Regions from separate parts of the Homo sapiens genome. Here region 1 is linked to region 2. The links come from fine-mapping of genetic effects on gene expression. A gene starts in region 2. The other region holds a variant in brackets. All regions are shown on one strand. Distances are from middle to middle. Region 1 overlaps TUBGCP6 (tubulin gamma complex component 6). Region 2 holds the start of HDAC10 (histone deacetylase 10).

What was found. PIP is the estimated chance that this variant, and not a neighbour inherited with it, causes the effect.
Region 1: its variant is the best candidate, but not a certain one, in a credible set for the expression of HDAC10 in liver (GTEx, PIP 0.78).

Annotation. Positions count from the first base shown.
Region 1 is chr22:50,225,616-50,230,908 of GRCh38, forward strand. TUBGCP6 (tubulin gamma complex component 6) reads right to left here. Exons shown (of 25, transcript NM_020461.4): 4 at 3,789-3,962; 5 at 2,292-2,413; 6 at 1,384-1,462; 7 at 1,118-1,227; 8 at 672-763; 9 at 435-574; 10 at 179-328. Among named protein-coding and RNA genes, the nearest start is that of TUBGCP6, 17 kb to the right of the region's middle. The variant C/T (reference allele first, on the strand shown) is at 2,463.
Region 2 is chr22:50,248,836-50,254,191 of GRCh38, forward strand. It overlaps HDAC10 (histone deacetylase 10), which reads right to left and starts at 2,430. Exons shown (of 20, transcript NM_032019.6): 1 at 2,139-2,430; 2 at 1,936-2,070; 3 at 1,592-1,688; 4 at 1,228-1,325; 5 at 1,025-1,129; 6 at 800-868; 7 at 493-619; 8 at 268-333; 9 at 1-55. The coding sequence starts at 2,197. MAPK12 (mitogen-activated protein kinase 12) reads right to left here. Exons shown (of 12, transcript NM_002969.6): 12 at 4,066-4,645. The coding sequence ends at 4,566. RefSeq lists enhancers at 775-1,621, 3,276-3,445 and a silencer at 2,126-2,785.

The DNA.
Region 1 (5,293 bases), 23 kb before region 2:
GACACCCACCCTTCATCTCAACTCCCCCTTGGCACCCACCCAGGCCACCGCCAGGACAGAAAATGCCAGAAGGGAGGCCCCCATCTTGCACAGCCCTCATGTCCGCCCCACCAACCTGAGACCCCAGGAAGCAGAGGCAGGGGCGAAGAAAGCCCCCGAGACCTGTGGTGCCACGCACCTTCTCCTCCTTGCTGACAGAGCTGTGGCGGGCCACCCTCTCCATGCGCCCAACGTAGACGGCACAGTCCTTCTCAATCTCCTTCAACTCCTCAAGGGAGAAAATCACCGAGATCCGGGGGACAGGGACGTCGGACCAACAGAGGTAATGCTGCCAAAGGGGATGCAAGCACAGCCACCAGCACTCAGCCCCAGCCTCATACTCAGCCCCAGGGAAGACCGGCCCCTCTCTTCCCCACACATGAGCCCCTCCTCACCCGGGGGCAGCAGAGCTTCAGCAGGTTAATGGTCTTTCCGCAGACGTATATGTCGTGGGCAATGTGCTTCAGAAACACGGGAACACAGTCCTCCACCTCTTTGGAGATGAGCACGTAGCCATGTGTCCAGTACAACTTATCTAAGGTAGGGTGAACACCACGGTGGCCGGCATGGCCATGGCCCTGAACCCAGGCCCACAGGCACGGACCCCTGCCCCGCAATCAGCTGCCACCTACCTCGGAAGCTGAGGTACTCGTGGTTCACCTGAATCATGAACTCGCCATAAGCGTCTCTGAACACCCCGCTGTACACCCAGTCGTGGATGAACCTGCAGTGGGGGAAAAGCAGGGGTAGATGTGGTCAACGGAGAGGTGGGTGGGGCGTGGCTGTCAGTGAGGGGTGGGACAGGGGCGTGGCTGTCAGTGAGGGGCAAGTGGGGGCGTAGCTGTGAGAGGTGGAGTGGGGTGTGGCCATCCATGAGGGGCGGGATGGAGTGGGGGCAGGGTGGGGGGTGTGGAGTGGGGGCAGGGTGGGGGGTTGGGGGCTCCTGCCCAGTCCACCTATCCTGCCCTCCCCTTCCTGTGTGACCCCCACATTCAGCAGGTGTCTGACAAGGGACCGCTCTCAAGTGTCTGCCTGGTGGGAGTGCGCGCCCGCCGCGCCTGCCCAGCCCACTGCCCACCGGGTGTAGGGCTCGCAGCTGGTCTTCAGCAGGGACAGCAGTACAGGGTAGTGCTCGTTGCTGCAGTTGTGCAGAGCCTCCTGGTAGAGGTAGGACAGCAGCTTCACGCCCTGCAGACCGCAAAGGGGGTGGGGGGCAGCTCAGCGCACCCAGCGCTGGGAGTGAGGCGCAGCCCTGCCGGCAGCAGCCCTCCAGGGACACGCTCAGCCACCCCCGTTTCCTGGAGCCCACCAGGCTGACACACTCGGCAGGGACGCACAACTCACGGTGGGAAACGCGGCCCTGGGGCCTCCTCCACAGGTGCCCGGGAGCACAGCGCCAACGCCACAGAGCTCGGCCAGGTACCTAGACCCAGAGGCAGGATGAGACCAGGTGACCGGGCTCAGGGTTCCCAGGCCTGGATCAGATCGTGAGCAAAGTCTCCACGTATCTTTATGCTCCCTGGGGCAACTAACTTTAGATGCAGGCTTTAAAAACCACAGGCACCCCAACCACCCAGAAACGGGCTCCCTGCAGGACTCGTGTGCAGCCCTGTGCCCCTGCGCTGTCCACACACACCCCACTGAAGTACCCACACCCAGCAGGCCCTCCCTCCCAGGATCTGGCCAACACACGAATCACCCTGATCCTCCCACTTCTGGGGGCTGCACCTGAGAGCCCCTCCCATCCACACAGTGGTACCAAGCATCTGCCACAACTCGCACCCTTCACAGCCCAGCTCCCCTGCCCCACAGTGTCTCAGCCCTTGGGTCTCCTCAGCGCTGCCACACTCTGCTCCTCAGCCTGGAAGGTCGCCTCTCCCACTGCTCCCAATGCCCAGCTCCTCACTCTTCCTTCTCTGATGGCACCTGCCAATAGCCCCCGAGCCTGGTTGCTCACTAACCAGCTTGTGTGTACCGGACGCCACATCTCCAGGGACCCTGTGTGCCAATTAGGCAGGAGCCACCGGACCTGGAGGGCCTGGATGGGGCCAGCTGTGGTGGGCCCACGGCAGACACACCCGCTCAGCACCGGGCACCTGGTGAACTCGGCCGGCCAAGGGCCATCCGGTCGCCTGCTGAGGGCTGTTCTCACAGGCCCTCCTTGCCAGGGAGCAGGGCAAACCCTCCACCACCCAGCAAGCCCCACACCGCTCCCGCAAAGTCCCCTGCTCAGCCGCCATGCTGAGGCTCACCTGAGCTGCCGGCCAAGTTTCTTGAAGAGAAAACCAATGGTGAGGAGGCTCAGGGTGGGCGGAGTGGAAAGGACGCAGGCCCGGTAATACTGCAGGTACCTCCTCAGGCCACTGGTGAAGGCCTGTGGGCAAAGAGGCTGGGAGGAGGGCGGCCAGGCACATGGACGCAGC[C/T]GTGCCCAGGGCCTGAGGGGCACCAGTGCTGGGAACAGCGCTTTGTTTCTTGCCTCAGCTCTGGGCTCCATTTCCAAGCAATGGGCCTCTGTGAGCCACACCCCGCCACCGGGCCAGGTGGAAATGCGGCCCATCCACAAGAAGCCAGAAGCTGTGGCCCACCACCAACCCTTCCTCTCATCTGAGCCCAGCTGCCCCAGGGGCGCCCACCACCAACCCTTCCTCTCATCTGAGCCCAGCTGCCCCAGGGGCGCCCACCACCAACCCTTCCTCTCATCTGAGCCCAGCTGCCCCAGGGGCATGGCAAAGGGGCTGGGGGGGAAATGGCGGCCGTGCTCTGTGCACAGACACTAGTGCTGTGAGGGCTGCAGCTGCTCCGACCACAGCTGTCTCAGTGGCACCAGCATCCTGGGCAACGCCACAGCAGCAGGCCCTGCAGGTCACACTAAGACAGGGGCACCCTGGACCAATCTCAGTCCACCCACCCCAGGAGCCGCCTGGCTATGCCTGCCAGATGAACAAGAACCACAGTCCAGCCCTTCTCAGCGTCCCCTGCTCTGACCCCTTCTCCACCATCTCTAGCTCTCAAGTCCCCCGGGGCTGAGCCTCTGCCTAGAAGCTCTCCCCGCCCCGTGCAGCTCCCACCATGCCCACCTCCACAGCCCATCTAAAACCTACACCTCACCACATCACCCCACCCGACAGCCCCTGCTGCAGCAGCAACAGTCAAAGGAGGCTGCGCTGCCTGGCTCCTCCAGGGCTCTCTGCCCACCTTCCCCAACACCCTCCTCTCAATCCCCCAAACCCAAATGCCCCATCATCCACCTGCCTATTCTCTCCCACTCAAGGTGCAGCCCCTGTCCCATGGGCCTCTTCCCAGCACATGAGCCAGCTTCAAGACTCACCAAACAGCAGCTTCCGGAGCCAGACTTGGCTCAGAACTCCCAGCAATGTAAATTCACCCAACAGGAGGGCCCTGCGCTGTCAGTCATCCACAATGTGCCGGGCCCACTGGGGAGCAGGCAGCAAGAGCCCCACTCACGCCTTTCCTGCCCTGCGCACCCCTTATGCTGGCTGCACCTGCCTCCTACACACCCCAGGGCCCACACAGCCCAGGGCCCACACACATCTGCCCCAAGTTTCTAGTGAGGTAAAACATCCTCACTGACCCATCCCTCAAGAGCCACTATCGGGTTTCAGATGTTAGCAAGGAAAGAAAAGGTTTAGACTCTCTGGTCCTGCAGAAGGACCTCTGAGATTCTCTCTTCCAGGTCGTGTGCACCGTTCTCACAAAGGTGTGTGACAACCATGAGGCAAAGGCCATACCTGGAACACGAGGCCCTTGCTGTACAAAGAGTCCAGGACGGGCTGCAGAGAGAAATGACTCAGGCGCGTGTAGCAGGTCCCATACTCGGCCACTTCCGAGAGCAGGCTGCTGATGCTCTCGGGAGACGCTCCTGACACGTGGACGCCCCGCTTCACCACAAAGGCCTGGGCCGGCTGCACAGGGGCAGAGGACACTGGTCACAGAGGCCAGGCACCCAGACCCCCAGTAAGGTGCCGTCTCCCTCCACCCTTGCACCCAACCCCACGCCACCTAGAGTGCCTCCAGGACCCAAAAGCAAATGCCCAGAAGGCATACCCAGAACTCCCACACCGAGGGACCAAACCGAGGCACAAATCCTCACTGACCACACTGAAAAATACATGTTTAAAATGCCAAGTGTAGAAAAGGGTAGAAAAAAACAGAACACCTTCCACAGGACACAAGTACACAGACAGCCTCCTGGGGCAGAAGCTATAAAACATGACGGCCGTGAGACCCGCTCATTTGACTCTTCGGGATGAATTAGAGAAATGATGGAAGATGCACAAAGACTCGCCACAGGACATTCTCCACAGTATGTTTATAACCAGAGAGTGGAGACCCCCAATAGAGGGCTCATGACAACCAAAACGAATGGGGTGTAGCAGAAGCCAGAAGGGAGGTTACAGCCGCAAATACCCACGTTAGAAAGGAAAAAAAATATCCCGCAATACAAAGGAACAAGATACCAAACCACAACAGCACCGTGTATACCCTAAAGAGATATTTTAAAAAGAGCTGTTAGGCCAAGCACAGTGGCTCACACCTATAATCCCAGAACTTTGGGAGGCTGAGGCAGGAGGATCACTTGAGCCCAGAAGTCTGAGACCAGCCTGGGCAACATAGCAAGACCCCCATCTCTAAAAAAATTTTAAAAGTTAGGCCAGGCATGGTGGCTCACGCCTGTAATCCCAGCACTTCAGGAGGCCAAGGCAGGTGGATCACTTCAGGTCAGGAGTTCATGACAAGCCTGGCCAACATGGCAAAGCCCCGTCTCTACTAAAAATACAAAAATTAGCCAGGCATGGTGGCGTGCACCTGTAGTCCCAGCTACGCAGGAGGCTGAGGCAGGAGAATTGTTGAATACGGGAGGCAGAGGTTGCAGTGAGCTGAGATCACGCCTTTGCACTCCAGCCTGGGAGACAGAGCAAGACTCCGTCTCAAAAAAAAAAAAAAATTAAAAATTAGCCAGCCGTGGTGGTGCATGCCTGTTGGTCCCAGCTACTCGGGAGGCTGAGGCAGGAGGATCAATTTGAGCCTAGGAAGTTGAGGCTGCAGTGAGTCATGTTTGAGCCATTGCACTCCAGCCTGGGTGATCCTGTCTCCAAAAAAAAAAAAAAAGAAAGAAAAGAAAAACAGGCTGGACGCAGTGGCTCACATCTGTAATCCCAGCACTTTGGGAGGCCGAAGCAAGCGGATCACTTGAGGTCAGGGGTTTGAGACCAGCCTCACCAACATGGTGAAA
Region 2 (5,356 bases):
GGTCCCCGATGGCTGAGTCAAATCCTGCCGAGACCAGCACCAGCTCAGGGTCAAACTACAGGCCAGGCCGGAGTGGGGAGGGTCGACAGAGAGGGGCTGGAGCCCAGGTGAGGGCGAGCCAGGCCCATCCCATCCCCTCCTGAGCACCTTCCCCAGCCACACAGGAGTGGGACAGCTCATAACCCTCCTCCTGCCTTCACTGGCGCACTCCAGGCACAAGGTCCCCCTCCCACCCGGCTGCCCTGGGGGAGCCCTCCGTGCAGTCACCTCAAAGGCCAGTGGGAGCAGCAGGTGCAGGAAGGCAGCCACGTAGTCAGCGTTTCCCATCCCAACCTGGCAGGACATCCCAGGCTACATCCTGAACTGTGGGGCAGGGGAGGGGCCCGGGGGAGGGGGTGGGTGGGGACCTGGGGCTTGAGGGTGAACTGTGGGGGAGGGGAGGGGCCCAGGGGGAGGGGGCTGGGTGGGGACCTGGGGCTTGAGGGTGGGCACCTGGTTCCAGGGCAGGTTGACAGTGAAGCCGAGGCCCTGTCCCCGCCCCACTGCGTCTGCATCTGACTCTCGCAGGAAAGGCCAGAAGCGCCCATGCTCATAGCGGTGCCAGGAGAAGTAAAGGACGCTGCCAACAGCCAGCCAGGGCCAGAGGTCAAAGGTCAGGACCCTCAACAGCTCTACAGCTCCCTGTAGAACGCTGACCCCTGAGCACATGTCTGTATCTCACCCCTGGATTTTCCCAGGCCAGGCTGTGCACCCAAAAACTGGGGCTGCAGGGAAGGGTGGTTTCCGCACCCCTGCTCACCTGGGGTCATCCTCAAAGAGATACTGGATCCCCTGGCCATGGTGCACATCCCAGTCCACGACGAGGATCCTGGGTACAGACAGCGCTGGTGGCAAAGGGGCAGGGCCTCCCACCTCCAGGAGCCCGGCCAGGGATGGGAAGGTGCTGGCTGGGTTCTCTCGCCTCCTGCGCTGCCCCTTGCTGTGTGGCCTGGGCCCACCCCCCTGCAGCCAGCCTGGCACACACCTGTGTAGCCCGTGTTTCTGCTTGGCATGTGCAGCTGCTATGGCCACGTTGTTGAACACACAGAACCCGTTGGCAGCCGCCCTCTGGCCATGGTGCCCGGGAGGCCTACGGCGTGAGAGTAGGATTTGGGTCACGTCAGGGTCGCCCTGGCCCCTCACAGGGCCACCCACGGAGGAGCAGCCAGGGGAAGGGGCAGCTCTCACCTCACCAGGGCAAGCCCATTTTGCACAGCTCCAGTGAGCACAGCGTCCACCAGCTGCAGTCCAGCCCCTGCGGCCAGCCGCGCGCAGTGAAAGGTACTCTGTGGGCGCAGGGGCGCAGATGAGCCCCCTGCCTTCCCTGCTGCCCTTTGCAGGCCATACCCACACTTGTGCCAGGCTGCAAGACACCAGCTGCTGAGCAGAACAGGCCAGCCCCAGGCTCTGGCAGTGCCAGCAGGCAGGTGTGCAGGGCAATGTCATGTGTATGGACCAGGGGACACTGGCTGGGGTTGGCGGCCGTGGCTGTGAACGCTCAAAGGCACGTGCATGTGTGTCTGCACAGGTGAGTGTGTCCGGGGACACGCACCGGGTGGAAGTAGATGGCGTCGAACTGTCCGGACAGCGCCTGCAGCTCCTCCTTGCCTAGGACCTGGGTCTCCCTGACCAGGGATACATACTCTGGGCTGCATGCAGATGGGCAGGCAGGAGAGGCAGGGTCACCAGCAGGAGCAGGGGGGCGGGAGGCGGGGACCTGGGATTCATGGTGGGAGTGGCCACCCTGTCACTTCCTCAAGCCTGTGAGCCCACCCGAGGTGCATAGGGAGAGGCTCTGTATTCGAGGCTGGCAGGCTCGGGGTAGGCCCAGGTTCTTAGGTTTCTAGCTGGGCTGCCCGCCCCGCCCCCCATCGTGGGGCCTGCCCCCGTCCTGACCTGTGCACCAGGCCCAGCTCCTCTTCCGAGGCCTCGCGGGCTGACAACCGCAGACACCTCTGTTCCAGGCCGCGCTGCCGCAGGCGATCCAGGGCTGCGGTCAGGCGCTCAGGACGCTCGATCTCGCACTCGGGGCTGGGGCAGATGAGGAGCTCAGTTCAGAGGTCCCTCCCCGCACCCCACCTCGGCCAGGTCCCACTTACTCGTCCCAGAGCAGCCGGGTGGCCGTCATGTCCTCATGGTACACAAGCGCGGTCCCCATGGCTGCGCCGTGGTCACCCTGGGTTCCCAAACGCCCTCGCTAGTGGTGCCTGCCACTGCCTGTCCCCACCTTCGGCCGGGAGCAGCCGGAGGCCTGGGACCTGCCTGGGGCGCAGGCGGGCGGCGGGCACCGGCCTGGGCGGGAGCGCACAGAACCTAGGCAGGCTCCGGGATCCCAGGCGCGCAGAAGGCACGGAGCGAGGCTGCAGTCGAAGGGGGAGGCTCCCCGCGCCTGGCTTCCGGCTTCCTCGCCTCGGACCTGGGTCCCGCCCCGCGCCCTGCTCCCGGTCGCTATCGCGAGCTCCGCCCCGGAGCGAGGAACCAGCGGGCGCGGAAGCCTCGGCGCCCCGAGCCGCCAGCCCTCGGAGCTGCGCTGCGGCTCCGCCTCCCCATTGGCCCCGCCCCGATCCCCTCCAAGAGGGGCGGGGTCCCCCGGCCTTAGGCGAGTGGTCGCCGCAGCCCCACCCGAACGCCCGTGGCCGAGCCTGCCCATGAGAGCCCCGTTCTGCACCAGCTGGGTCAGGGTCCAGCGCAGCCCCAAGGCCCACCCGGCCCGGGCGCAGGAAGACCTGGGGTGAAAGGCGAGGGGGGCGAGGGGTCTGCAGGGCAAAGGCCACGAGGCGGGAGGAGCCCGCGGGGAGGCAGGTGGCGCTGCGGCCGGCTCAGGGCGGTGGTCGTGGCTGCATGGAGGCGCAGCACCGCCCCCGAGGTTTAAGGAGGGAGTGAGTCCGGTTCTAGCTCCAAGAAGACCCCTGGCCCAAGAGCAGAGTCAAGGTCGGTGGAGGTGGGGACACTGGACCGGGGTTGCGGTAGCATGGTGGGGGACTGAGGAAGATAGGAGGCACGGGCACAGCCACGGAGGAAGATGCCCGAGAGGAAACCTGAGGCCCCCTGGAGCCCAGGGGACACCCTGCCCCCGCGGGAGTTCACATCCAGCTGGGTCACAGAATTTTGGGGCCCCCAGTCCTCAGGCCACCTATGGGCCCACACTTTGGGCCCAGTGTGGACAGCAGCCATGCCACAAGTCAGCGTGGCTCCGGAACTGATGGCGATCACGTCCCCCAGGCCCGGATGCCCTGGAGAGGCATGAGGGTCGCTGGGCAGAGAAGGCCCATCTGTCGTGGCAGCTCATCAGGTCCACTTTGGCTGGGCCAGCTGTGGGCATGTCCACCGAGGACACCTGGCCTGCCCTGCCCTGCCCCTCACTGGTCTCTCTGCTGTAACCCCTGCCCTGGGACAGGTTTGGAGGTGCCCATGGCCTGTGTTCCAGCCGCCACCCTTGGAAACACCGAGTGGCCTGCAGAGGGCGGCCTGGGCACGAAGATACCACTGGAGCAGGGTAGTAGGGGCTAGAGGTTTGATCAAGAATAAAACCCAGCCCTCTGCGCTCACCAATCCACCACAGGGGCCAGAGGGGTCTCAACATGTCCAATGTGCCCCGTCCCCCCAGGGACTGGCTGGCGCTCACCACTTCACCACAGGGGTCTCAACGTGCCCAGCGTGCCCCCTCCCCCCAGGGACCTGCTGGCATTGGAGGATGCAGAGAGCTAGGGTAGATCCTAACACTCCTCCCCATCAGGCCCTGCCCCTGGGTCTGGCTTCAGGATCCACACACAGTGGCTTAGAGTCTAAGCCATTAGCAGGTCACCCCGTAAAAGGGGAGGGGCCAAGCCCTAACGTGGGGGTTCGAAGATCACTGGCACAGGCCTGGGGGAAGTGGGCACCAGCTTTGTGGCCTGGGAGAGATGGGATGCTCAGGCCCCCCTCCTGGCTCTAAGGGTCTGAGCTATCAGGCCAGCCTCCTCTACATGCAGGCCAAGGGCCCGGAGGTCTTAAGGTGGGACCCGGCATGAGGACGCACAGCCAGAACAGGGAGCTACAAAAGGGTCTATTTCCTTCCAGCCACGCGGGCACCACACAGCTGATTTACATTCCAGGCTGGGGGTGCAGGAAGGTCCACTGACGTCGCCCAGGAGAGGGGATGTCCCTGAGTTGGTGCCCTGCGCCCACCCTCTGTCCTTCCTCTGCATGGCCCAGAGCAGGCAGGGCTCAGAGGCCAAGGCCTGATCTGGAGCCCCACCAGCTCTGAGGTTTCTGAGAGCACCGGGCAAGTGGGCCACTGCTCCAGGGATCAGAGGCCATCCCCAGGTCGGCCAGAGGTCTTGTCCAGAAAGTTCAGGTGCTCCTCCATGATGGGCGCCCAAGAGCAGAGGCATGGCCGTGGGGAGGAGGGTCCATGGAACCCGGGCGTCTGCTCTGATGGATGCCTTGGGATGCAAGCCCCAGCCAAGGTCAAGGTGGCAACGAGAGTCCCCTCTCAGGTGGAAGGTGAAGGTGGTCCTCACTGCCACCCCGGAGCCCAGAGATCTTCACAGAGGCGTCTCCTTGGAGACCCTGGCCCCCAGCTGCCGGGGAGGCTTGAAGCTGAGCACCTCTTTGTAAGTAACACCTGGCGGGGGTGGGGGGGCGGGCACAACAGAGAGGGGGGTCAGCCTTTGCCTTCCATCCTGGGAGTCGCTCACAGACACGCCTGGCGGTGCCTCGTGGGGCCCTTCTCTAATCCTAATGTGGTCTGAACCACTGAGAGAAGGTTTGTGTGAAGAGGCCATTGCTCTAGATCTGGATTTTCCAGGGAAAGGGGAGGTGGCCAGGGCTTGGCCACATGTCCACCACGGTCTGTCCTAAGAGCTGAGGCCTCAGCCACAGTTGTGTGGGTGGGGACTACAGAGAGGATCCTATGGCCCATGGCTTTCAAGTTATCTTTCTAGCAGCAGAAACCTTTAATCAAACAAAGCCAAACTCATAAGCACACGAATATGCACACAGCGAAGGGTGGAGGCCCTGCTGCGGGCACCCAGGGACCCGTGGTCGTAAGGAGCACATGTGAATCTCAACCCATCCAGCCCCACCCAGCCAGTGTGGAGGACCAAGGTCCCGCACCCGAGGCAGAGCCAGGACAGGGCCTGAAACATGGCACGGCTCCCAGTGTACACCTACTTTCCCCGGGCACACCCACCCCAGGCTGGTCATGCAGCCATGAAGAAGACACAGCCTGCCATCCTGGAGCAGAAATGAAGCCAGGTCCAGCACAGCCTCAGGCCGCAGCATAGCTGCGGGAGCTGGGGAGGCTTCTCTGAGTCCAGCCTGAGGCTGCACAGGC